Linked DNA regions of Homo sapiens: region 1 is linked to region 2. Evidence: fine-mapped expression QTL. Tissue or cell type: whole blood. Region 2 holds a variant in brackets; the other region holds the start of a gene. All regions are shown on one strand. Distances are from middle to middle.

What was found. PIP is the estimated chance that this variant, and not a neighbour inherited with it, causes the effect.
Region 1: it holds the start of ADGRA2, and the variant in region 2 is fine-mapped to the expression of ADGRA2 in whole blood (TOPMed, PIP above 0.99).

Annotation. Positions count from the first base shown.
Region 1 is chr8:37,793,885-37,799,028 of GRCh38, forward strand. It overlaps ADGRA2 (adhesion G protein-coupled receptor A2), which reads left to right and starts at 2,999. Exons shown (of 19, transcript NM_032777.10): 1 at 2,999-3,650. The coding sequence starts at 3,385. RefSeq lists enhancers at 1,429-1,994, 1,995-2,560 and silencers at 2,824-3,063, 3,074-3,243, 3,524-3,613.
Region 2 is chr8:37,824,466-37,829,609 of GRCh38, forward strand. ADGRA2 (adhesion G protein-coupled receptor A2) reads left to right here. Exons shown (of 19, transcript NM_032777.10): 3 at 4,423-4,494; 4 at 4,796-4,867; 5 at 5,023-5,094. Among named protein-coding and RNA genes, the nearest start is that of BRF2, 23 kb to the right of the region's middle. RefSeq lists enhancers at 1,107-3,364, 3,681-4,649. The variant G/A (reference allele first, on the strand shown) is at 2,239.

The DNA of each region.
Region 1 (5,144 bases), 31 kb before region 2:
CACTGCACCTCTGAGGAGAGGTCTGCAGGAAGCTTCCCAGGGGAAAGTCTCCCTGTGGCTCAGAGAAGAAAGCACTTAAAAAGGAACCATGGCCGGGCACGGTATACTAGAAATAAGAAGAAAAAAGGATTAAAACATGCTCATGGCAGGTTGCGGTGGCTCACTCCTATAATCCCAGAACTTTGGGAGGCCAAGGCGAGTGGATCACCTGAGGTCAGGAGTTTGAGACCAGCCTGGCCAATATGGTGAAACCCTGTCTCTCCTAAAAATACAAAAATTAGCCAGGCATGGTGGCAGGCGCCTGTAATCCCAGCTACTTGGGAGGCTGTGACAGGAGAATCACTTGAACCCAGGAGGTAGAGGTTGCAGTGAGCTGAGATTGTGCCACTGCACTCCAGCATGGGTGACAGAGCTAGACTCCATCACAAACAAACAAACAAACAAACAGACAAACATGCTCATGGCCAGGCATGGTGGCTCACACCTGTAATCCCAGCACTTTGGGAGGCCAAGTCAGGCAGATTGCTGGAGTCCAGGAGTTTGAGACCAGCCTGGGCAACATGGCGAGATCCCCATCTCTACAAAACATTAAAAAAAATTAGTTGCATGCAATAACAAACCTGTAGTTCCAGCTACTTGGGAGGCGGAGGTGGGAGGATTGAACCCAGGAGATCGAGGCTGCCGTGTTCCTGCCACTGCACTCCAGCCTGGGTGACAGAGAGAGACCTTGTCTCACACATACACAAAAAAAGGAATCAGAAAGTAAGTTCCTACCCTTGGACTCTAGTCTCAGTGACTCAGTTTCTTCATCCATACTTGCAAAATAAGAAAGTAACCTCCACTTCATCACCTCCCTGGGTGGGTAAGAAGTCAAATGTGGTGACCCTCAGGACAGTCCAGTGTTTTGTAGATGTCTCCATCAGACATTTCATTCCTAGTGGTGGGGAAGCCTCGCCTCATTAAATGTCCTTTGGCCTCTGTTCAGCCTCCAGGAGTGGGTGTTCCAGTAGAATTCTTCTTTAGACTTTGAGTGTCTTCATTTAGCCAAAGGAAATCACAGAAAAGCTATATGACCCAGGCCAGAGATCTCAGAGTCTTCCTTGCCTGTGAGCAGGAGGGCTGCACAGCCCTGCCTATGGGCTGTGGCTCTGCTGTCAGCTCTTTCCTGAGGAATGCAGCCTGGGCCACCGCCTGTGAGGGCTCCTGCTGGGGGAGTCCATTCCCCTTCTCCCTTCCTCCATTTGCAATCACTATTTATTTATCTTTGGAAGTTCAAGGAACCAGAGAGCCTGCAACTGGGGGAGATCTGTGGAGCCAGGGAGGGAAAGTGAAGAAGCCAACATCTAGGCCCCTGCCTGCCGCCAACGCCAACGGGCAAGAGAAGAAAGCCATTCCCTGCATAGTCAGGGTAGACTTGGCTGACAGGCACAGGGGCCCTAGAAAAGGCACCACCGCACATCAGCAGGGCTAAGCTCACTAAAGAATGTGGCATTCACCTTGGGGACCGCTTGGGTGGTAGAGTGAAGGAGGGGGAACGGGAGTCCTGCCCCATCCCGGCAGCTCTATTAAGCAACAGAAAGGTGAGCTTCTGTGGGGAAACAGAGGAAGCAGACCCCTGGGCTGCACTTCTTACTGCCTGTCCCCAGCCCTGGTTCCGGTGTACTGCAGGCTGTTTTTTTTTTAATTAATTTATTTATTTATTGAGACGGAGTCTCACTTTGTCACCAGGCTGCAGTGCAGTGGCACGCTCTCAGCTCACTGCAACCTCCGCCTCCTGGGTTCAAGCAATTCTCGTGCCTCAGCCTCCCAAGTAGCTGGGATTACAGGCGCCCACCACGACGCCCGGATAATTTTTGTATATTTAGTACAGACAGGGTTTCATCATTTTGGCCAGGTGGATCTCAAACTCCTCACCTCAAGTGATCCGCCCGCCTCGGCCTCGAAAAGTGCTGGGATTACAGGTGTCAGCCACCGCGCCCGGCCTGCAGGCAGCTTTATACCCACCACTAGTTGTCAAGGTCACCCCTGCCACCACCAGTCCTCTGCCTTTGGAAACCATGTGCCCCTCCCCCCCACCACACTCTCTTATTCTAATGCCACGATTTACTGGGCATCTAATGCCACTCTATAAACTGGGGAGCAGGCAGAGCCCCATTTCAACCCCAGAGATCTGCTACCCCAGCAAGCTAGGGGCTGTGTCCAAGGTCAGACAGTAATGAGAGGCAGAGCCGAGTCTGGAATAGGGGTCTCCAGACTCACTGCGCAGTGCTCTTTCCACACCCTGCTGCAAAGCCCTGCTCCTTCTCATCTACTTTTCCCTTGTCCCACTCACTGTCCCCGAAACACACACACACACACACACACACACACACACAGCGTTGTGGAAAATGTAGGAGGCCCAGTCTAGCCTCTAGCCTTGTCTGCCTTGGCCTTTGACCTCTCCTTGGCCGAATGACATGCACCCCCCGCTGAGCGAGGTCACCGCAGCGGAGGAGGGTCTGCTGCCTCCTTGTCTCGGCTGCCATCCTCCTGCGGCTGCCTCCACCGGAGCTGGAAGGAGAGTGAGAGCCGACTTCCAGACTGATCATCGTGTCAGGGGCCAAAGGAAACCTCGGAGCCTTCCACCAAGTTCAACCCAAAACAGGGCGCCCCAGACGTCTCTGTCCAAGCCCGCGGGTCCAGGAGGGCCCCAGCAGCCTGGAGACGCAAGCTGCACCGGCACGGACGAGGGAAATTTTGTGGAAGGTGGTGGTGGTCGGCTCAGAGGTCTGAGATGGGTTGCGGAAAGGAAGGGTCCTGGCCCGGGGCGCGGGGACAAGCGGGAGAGGAGTGTTGGTGCAGGGCGGGCGCGGGGACGCAGGGTCCTCGAACCAGCTGGCCCGCCCCCACTCGGCAGAGGGTCTAGGCCTGGCCGCGTGTCGGTCGGCGCTAGGGCCCCGCGGAAGGCCCGGGCGGGCGGGGACCGGCGGCGGGAGCGGCGCGGCGCGGAGCTGCCTCCATCCATGGCACGGAGCGGCGGCGGCGGCGGCAGCAGGAGCCCGGCGCGATCCGCTAGGTCCCAGCCCAGCGCCCAGCGAGCAGGCGACGCGGAGGGGCCGGGCCTCCAGTGTCCCGAGGGCCGGGCGCTGAGACTCCGGCCGCGCAGCTGGGAGCTGCCCGCGCTGCGCTGACAGCCGCGCCGACGTCCTCCCCGCCGGGGCGCTCGCAGGACATGCCCCCGGGGCGCGGCGGCGGGGACCCCGGGGCTCGCCTCCGCCCAGGGCCCCCCTCCACGCCCTCGGGAGCCCCGGGCCCCCGCTGAGCACTCCTCCCGCACGCCTGGGTCCCTCCGGCCGGCGCGCAGCCCGGCCCCAGCGCTGTGGGTCCCCGCGGGGCGATGGGTTGATGGGCGCCGGGGGACGCAGGATGCGGGGGGCGCCCGCGCGCCTGCTGCTGCCGCTGCTGCCGTGGCTCCTGCTGCTCCTGGCGCCCGAGGCTCGGGGCGCGCCCGGCTGCCCGCTATCCATCCGCAGCTGCAAGTGCTCGGGGGAGCGGCCCAAGGGGCTGAGCGGCGGCGTCCCTGGCCCGGCTCGGCGGAGGGTGGTGTGCAGCGGCGGGGACCTCCCGGAGCCTCCCGAGCCCGGCCTTCTGCCTAACGGCACCGTTACCCTGTGAGTACCCTACCAGGCCAGTTCCGTCCGAGCCGGGACTGGGGACGAAGGGAGGCGAGACGGGAGGGGTGGGAGCAGGGGGAAGGGGGCTATCCCCCCACTTCAGAGATTTCTGGACAGGCCTGGGTTCAGGCCCCCAGAGGGGAAGATTGGAGGAGCAGGGGAGAGACTGGGGCTCCAGGAGCGTGGAGGCGGGAAGGGGCTGCGGGGGACAGGCGCACCCCAGAGAAAGGCACCGCAGGCGCCCACTCACCTGCACAGGTGAAGTGGAGAGCACGCCTGCAGGGCACCCACGCCCCGGATTTCCAGCCTGGACTAGGGTTGCGGACTTTGGGGACCTGAGAAGGGTGAGAGCGGGGAATGCTCAGGAAAGATCGACGCTCGTGGCCCAGGAGGGGGCTGTGGTCCTAACCACTACGGTCGCGTCCCGGACTGGGCTGGAGGAGTCTCCGGATTTACCTGGCTGGCCTTGTCCCTTCAATTGGGGTCATCCCATCCTTGCCCCCTGGCCTGCCAGCGCCGCTTCCAGCCGGTCTCCTTAGGGCAAGGGGAGGCTGGGCTCAGAAAAGTCGGCCCTTGGAATACCGGCGCTCCTGGGCTGCAGGAGACCCTGGCGTCCCCATCCCTCTAGAGGCCCCTCTCCCACGGCGCCGTTTGTGCAGTGAGCTCTGTGCTGGGTCCCGCGTCCTTGCCTCTCCTTTGCCTCTCCTGGAAGTAACTCGAGCTTTGGCTGTTTCTCCATTGACTTCGCGCAAAGATTGCGAAGAAAGAAACGCGGCTGGGGAAGCGGGGTTCCCTCACCGCAGCCCACCCGGGCCTCCTTCCGCGACTTCCCTCTTAGTCAGGGCCTCAGTACGCCTTTGCTTTGCTGGCAGCGAGCGCTGCAGCGCCGCAGCCCGACCCCAAGCCTCCTACAAGGGGGTCGCAAGTCCCAGCAGCCGCGCGAGCATTGGCGACCCCTCCCCACCGCAGAGATTTCCTGCGCCGACCACGTGCTCGCAGCTCCACGCACGCCGTGGATTTGAGGGTCGGGCCCCCGCGGCCGCCGCTTCCTTTCCTGTCCCAAATCCAGCCTAAGAGCCGCTTCCCTTTCCCTGTCCTCCTGACCCCAGTGGCAACCGTTTCTCCACCGCCCCTTGCCCGCAGTCGGGGCTGGCCCAGTCTTTTCGATTGTGTCCAGAACAATACAGTAACGCCTCTGGTTGGGTGAGTTCAGAGGCTGCCCGCTTCCTGACAGGACACAACTGGTCAGCCTCTGACGCTGGCCGCCCGGCCTGCATTTTCCCCGGCCCGGGTGTGTGTGTGCATGTGTGTGCCTTAAGGGTGGAGGCGGTGTGTCTGCTCGCTGCCGCCTCCCTGCTGCTCAGGGTAAGGCTGTGGCCAGGGAAGGCACCTGTGGCTGTTCAGGGCAGCTCTCTCTGACTGTCCGCTGGGGTTTGAGGGTCCAGGCAGGCCTGGGCATTCCCCAGCTCACTTAGTTCTGGAGGAGAAAAA
Region 2 (5,144 bases):
TTGATGGTATCCTCTAAGGTGCAATTTTTTTTTTTTTTTTTTTTTGAGACTGAGTTTTGCTCTTGTTGCCCAGGCTGGAGTGCAATGGTGTGATCTCAGCTCACTGCAACCTCCACCTCCCGGGTTCAAGCGATTCTCCTGCCTCAGCCTCCTGAATAGCTGAGATTACAAGGCTCCCGCCACCACACACGGCTAATTTTTTGTATTTTTAGTAGAGACAAGGTTTCAACATGTTAGCCAGGCTGGTCTCGAACTCCTGACCTTAGGTGATCCACCTGCCTCAGCCTCCCAAAGTGCTGGGATTATAGGCATGAGCCACTCACCTGGCCAAAGGTGTAAAATTTTTAAGTTGTTATTAAATTCAACTTAACAATCTGCTTTGTTTCCTATTTCACCCCGTTTTGCTTTTTCTGAACTTTTATTCATCCGTTACTCCCTCCTCCTTTCATTGCTTCTGCTCACAAACTCACTCTTACACACTCAGCTCCCAAAGCCTCTGTTTTCCCAACAACGGCATAGGGCATGATTTGCTCCCAGGAATCCTCCCTCCACATCTGGCTTAGGGGAATCCTCCTGCATATTGACAGAGATACAGGGAGGGGGTGGCCTGGAGTCAAGGGGCAATGGGTAGCAGGGAGGGGAAGTGCCTTCAACACCCTGCGTCTTTCCCAGGTTCCAAGGACAGGGCTCTGTGGAAGCATATCTGCGCGTGCTTCCACAAGCTACTCTAGCTTCACCTGAGAAACGGAGGGATCAGATCAGACCATCCAGCAAAGGACTTCTGTCATTTTTTTTTTAAGAGTCTCACTCTGTCGTCCAGGCTGGCGTGCAGCAGTGGCGAAATCTCAGCTCACTGCAACCTCCACCTCCCAGGTTCAGGTGATTCTCCTGCCTCAGCCTCCCATGTAGCTGGAATTACAGGCGCCCACCCCCACATTGGCTAAATTTTTTTTTTTTTTTTTTAGTAGAGACGGGGTTTCACCATGTTGGCCAGGCTGGTCTCGAACTCCTGACCTCAGGTGATCTGCCTACCTCGGCCTCCCAAAGTGCAGGGATTACAGGTGTGAGCCACCGCACCCGGCCGGGGCTTCTTAACTTGGGCTCTATGCCCCTCTGGAAATTGTATGCATAGTGATGGGTGTAGTGAGTTTTTCTCGGGCAGAAGTTCATGGCCTTCGTAGATCTTCAAAAGGATGTGCTAAGAAAAAAAAGGCTCAAAACAACCAATCTATAGGAGACCTGCAGGTCCCAAAAATGTCCAAGTCTTATGGTAGCATTTCTCCCGCCCCGAGGGAGGACACAGCTTCTTACCCAGAGGGACCAGGCAGCATCGGCTTCCCATGGGTCCTTCAGGCTCTCAGAGCTCAGCCCAGGGAGCCGAGACAGGCCAGCTCCCAAGGGCACTCGTGGGGGCTGCCTTGGTCACCCCGAGGCTCCTCCCCAGGCGGGCTTGAGGCAAGGGAGAAGGCATGCCCACCCTCCGTGGAGGTGGAGGTGCCCTCTCCAAGGCCCCAGCATGGCTGGGCTGCAGGAAATCGAGGGCAGGAAGAGGGGCTGGGGCCTGGACGCCGCCTCGCTCCCATCTGCAGAGCATCAGTGGGGCAGGCGGGTGGGGGCTTTTGAGGGGGCCCGGGGAGGAAATGAGAATAAACACAAGTGAGCGGGGAGGGAAGGGGGGCTGCGCCTAAGCCCCTTGGCAGCCCATGAAGGGAAGTGACACAATGAGGAATGTGTTTCCCTCTGCCCGTCCCCCACGTGGGGGTGGGAGGCTGAGCCCTGAGAATGGCCAGACCCCAACAGGGGCCAGGGGGCACATGCTGGGACAGTCCCAGAGGGGCAGGCAGTGAGGATGGGGTCTGGCGGCAAAACGGTGGGGGCTGGGCCAGAGGGGCACCCCTGGCAGCCAGGATACTTATCCTGCATCCCTCTCCCTCGGCCAGGGGCCTAGGATCAGTGTCCTGGCACGGTCCCTGTGTGCGCCTCACTGGGGGGCACCTCCCAGCACACCCCAGCATGGAAGCCATCCCTCCTCTAGGGAACTGGCCCCTTCTGGTGGCCCCTTCCCTTCCTTCTCCAGGGACTTGGGGTCATGGAGGCCGGCTGAGTCCTTCGAGTCCTTCCTATGGGAAGGAGCTGAGGGTGAGGGCTCCCCTGGCCGTGGGAAGGGCTGTGCACAGTGTTTCTGTCCCCAAGCGGGACTGTGCACAAACAGGCCCCCTGGTGGGACAGTACCTCCCC[G/A]TCCTGAACACCCATTTCCTCTCCTCCCAGCGGGCAGCCGGCTTGGTTAACCCCCTCCTGCCCAGTAATCCAGAGACGTTGATGAGGTTGTGGTGGGCAGGGCCAAGAGCCTCCTCAGCCCCCCACCCCTGACCTCCTCCTCCATCTGGGCTGAGGGGTGGCAGGGCCAAGAGTCCCCTCAGCCCCCAACCCTGACCCCCTCCTCCATCTGGGCTGAGGGGTGGTAAGGCCTGGGAAAGCAAGTGGGCCCCAGAAATCTCTGTGGATCTCCTGTCTTCCCGCCACAGCCCCTTCAGACAGGGGGCCCCCACCCTTGCCTGCTCCAGGGGTCCACCCACCCTTGCCTGCTGCCTCACAATCTCCTGCCAGTGGGTGGGAGCCAAGAGGCCACTGCCTCCATCTCAGACCCAGCACAGGGAGGCCCACTGGGCTGTGAGGCCCATGAGCTCTATGGAGCCTGAAGCCTGTCCTGGTTTAGCTCAGGAAAGAGCCAGCTGGCCTTTGAGTAGGTGGGCAACTGGCCCCACCCACTCTGCCTTCTAGGCATCTGTCCCTGGCTGTGCAGGGCACAGAGGACAGGGTGAGGGAGAAGGCCAGTGAGCAGGCACCCACCTTGGTCTTCTGTGGTCCTGCCTGCCCCAAGAGCCCAGGGGGCTGCCCTGGCAGGTGTGGGGTTAGGGCAGGCAGATACCCAGCAGGTCGCCTGTGGGTGGGCACTGTCTCCTCAGCACTGTCCCTGCAGCCCCAGGGGCAGGTGAGGAAGGGGGCAGAGAGTTGTGCCTAGGCCATGATTGAATTTGAGCCACAGACTCAGGGCTGGAAGGCTGCGGACTTACCTGCCGCTCACTCCTCCAGGCCAGGCTTGGCCCCTGGGATCCCTGGGGGGTCACAGCCCCCTTCTGTCCTGTCTCCCGACACTGCGGGCTCCTGCGGAGACCCATGGAGAAGACAGGACTGAGGACCTTGAACAAGCTGTCACTTCCCTGGCTTCCTCATCTGAAGGAGGAGGCTGGACAGGACTTACACCCCTGCCCTGGAGAGGAGCCAGGCAGAGTCCACCTGGGCCTCGGCCAGCCGCCTGACCTGTTTCCTCGCCTGTCAGACAGAGAGGGGCACAGGGATAAAACAGCCATAAAAATACCCTCCTTGGCCAAGCGCGGTGGCTCACACCTGTAACCCCAGCACTTTGGGAGGCCCAGGAGGGAGGATCACTTGAGCCCAGGAGTTCAAGACCAGCCTGGGCAACATAGTGGGACCCTGTCTCTACCAAAAAAAATTTTTTTTTTTAAATTAGCGGGTGTGGTGGCGCACACCTGTGGTGCCAGTTGCTTGGGAGGCAGAGGTTGGAGGATGGCTTGGGCCCAGGAATTTGAGGTTACAATGAGCCATGATCACACCACTGCACTCCAGCCTGGATGACAGAGAGACCCAGCCTCAAAAACAAAACAAAACAAAACAACTACCCCTCCCATGCGTCCCCTCCCCTGCCCACAAAGGCCAGGCTCAAGAAGCTTCTACCTTTGCATAGCAATTTACAAAACACCATGACACCTATTTTCAAATGCTTCCCAGGGCAACCCCAGCGACCTGCAGGGCAGTCCGGAGGTGGGGCAGGGTGGGAAAGGAGGCCTCCTAACTTCCAATCCAGGACGCTCTCCATGTTGTCTGAGGCCCTTGTGATCCCATCTCTTGGCTTCTTCGTCTCCTCTCTCTGTTCTGACCAGTGCCCGCTGATGGTAGCCAGGGAGGCGGAGGAGGCCTGTCCGAGGGGGTGGTTCTTTTTTTTTTTTTTTTTTTTTTTGAGATGGAGTCTCGCTCTGTCGCCCAGGCTGGAGTGCAGTGGCGCGATCTTGGCTCCCTGCAGCCTCCGCCTCCCGGGTTCAAGCAATTCTCCTGCCTAGCTGGGGCTACAGGTGCACACTGCCACACCTGGCTAATTTTTTTTTTTTTTTTTTGTATTTTTAGTAGAGACGGGGTTTCACCATGTTGGCCAGGATGGCCTTGATCAGGGGTGGTTCTTTAATCCCACCTCCCACCCGGTGCTGAGGAGAGCAGAGGTTTAGCAGGAAGTCAAGTCCCTGAGAAACCCAGCAACAACACCGTGGTGACAGTGAGGACCCCTCCCGGGGAGCAGGGCGGCTCCAGCGGGGAGAGGTGTGAGGGCCTCTGCACTTGCCTCTGCAGGGACCTGAGGAACAACATCATCAGCACAGTGCAGCCGGGCGCCTTCCTGGGCCTGGGGGAGCTGAAGCGTTTGTGAGTGGCACGCCCTCCCCTGACCCCACCCCTCCCCTCCCGAGGGAGAAAGTCACCCCTCCTGCTCCATGCCCACCCCCTTCCTCTCACCCCCCCACACCTGCCCCTCCTTTCCGCTTGGGTGCCTTGGCTGGGGTCAAAGGAGCTGGCATTTCCAGTCCAGCTGCGGCCTGGCCCCAACCTCATCTCCTTTTTCATCCCACCCCCCAACACAAGCCCTGGCCCCACCCATGTGTTCCTCACAAGTGGACCCACGTGCTGCCACGTGGCCAACATGCTGAGGTTGCCTGTGTCTCTCTAGAGATCTCTCCAACAACCGGATTGGCTGTCTCACCTCCGAGACCTTCCAGGGCCTCCCCAGGCTTCTCCGACTGTAAGTGATGGGGTGAGAAGTGGGGAGGGGAGGAGAGGGAAGAAGTGCATAGGAAGCAAAATGTGGCCCCCAACCCTTCCACATCCCACCTGCTCTCCTCCGCCGGCCCATGGACACCCTAAGACCCCATCTCAGTTGTCCCCTGTTCCCTGCAGAAACATATCTGGAAACATCTTCTCCAGTCTGCAACCTGGGGTCTTTGATGAGCTGCCAGCCCTTAAGGTTGTGTGAGTATCTCTTCCTAGCTCAAGGACCCAGACCCCTGTCCCTTTCTCTG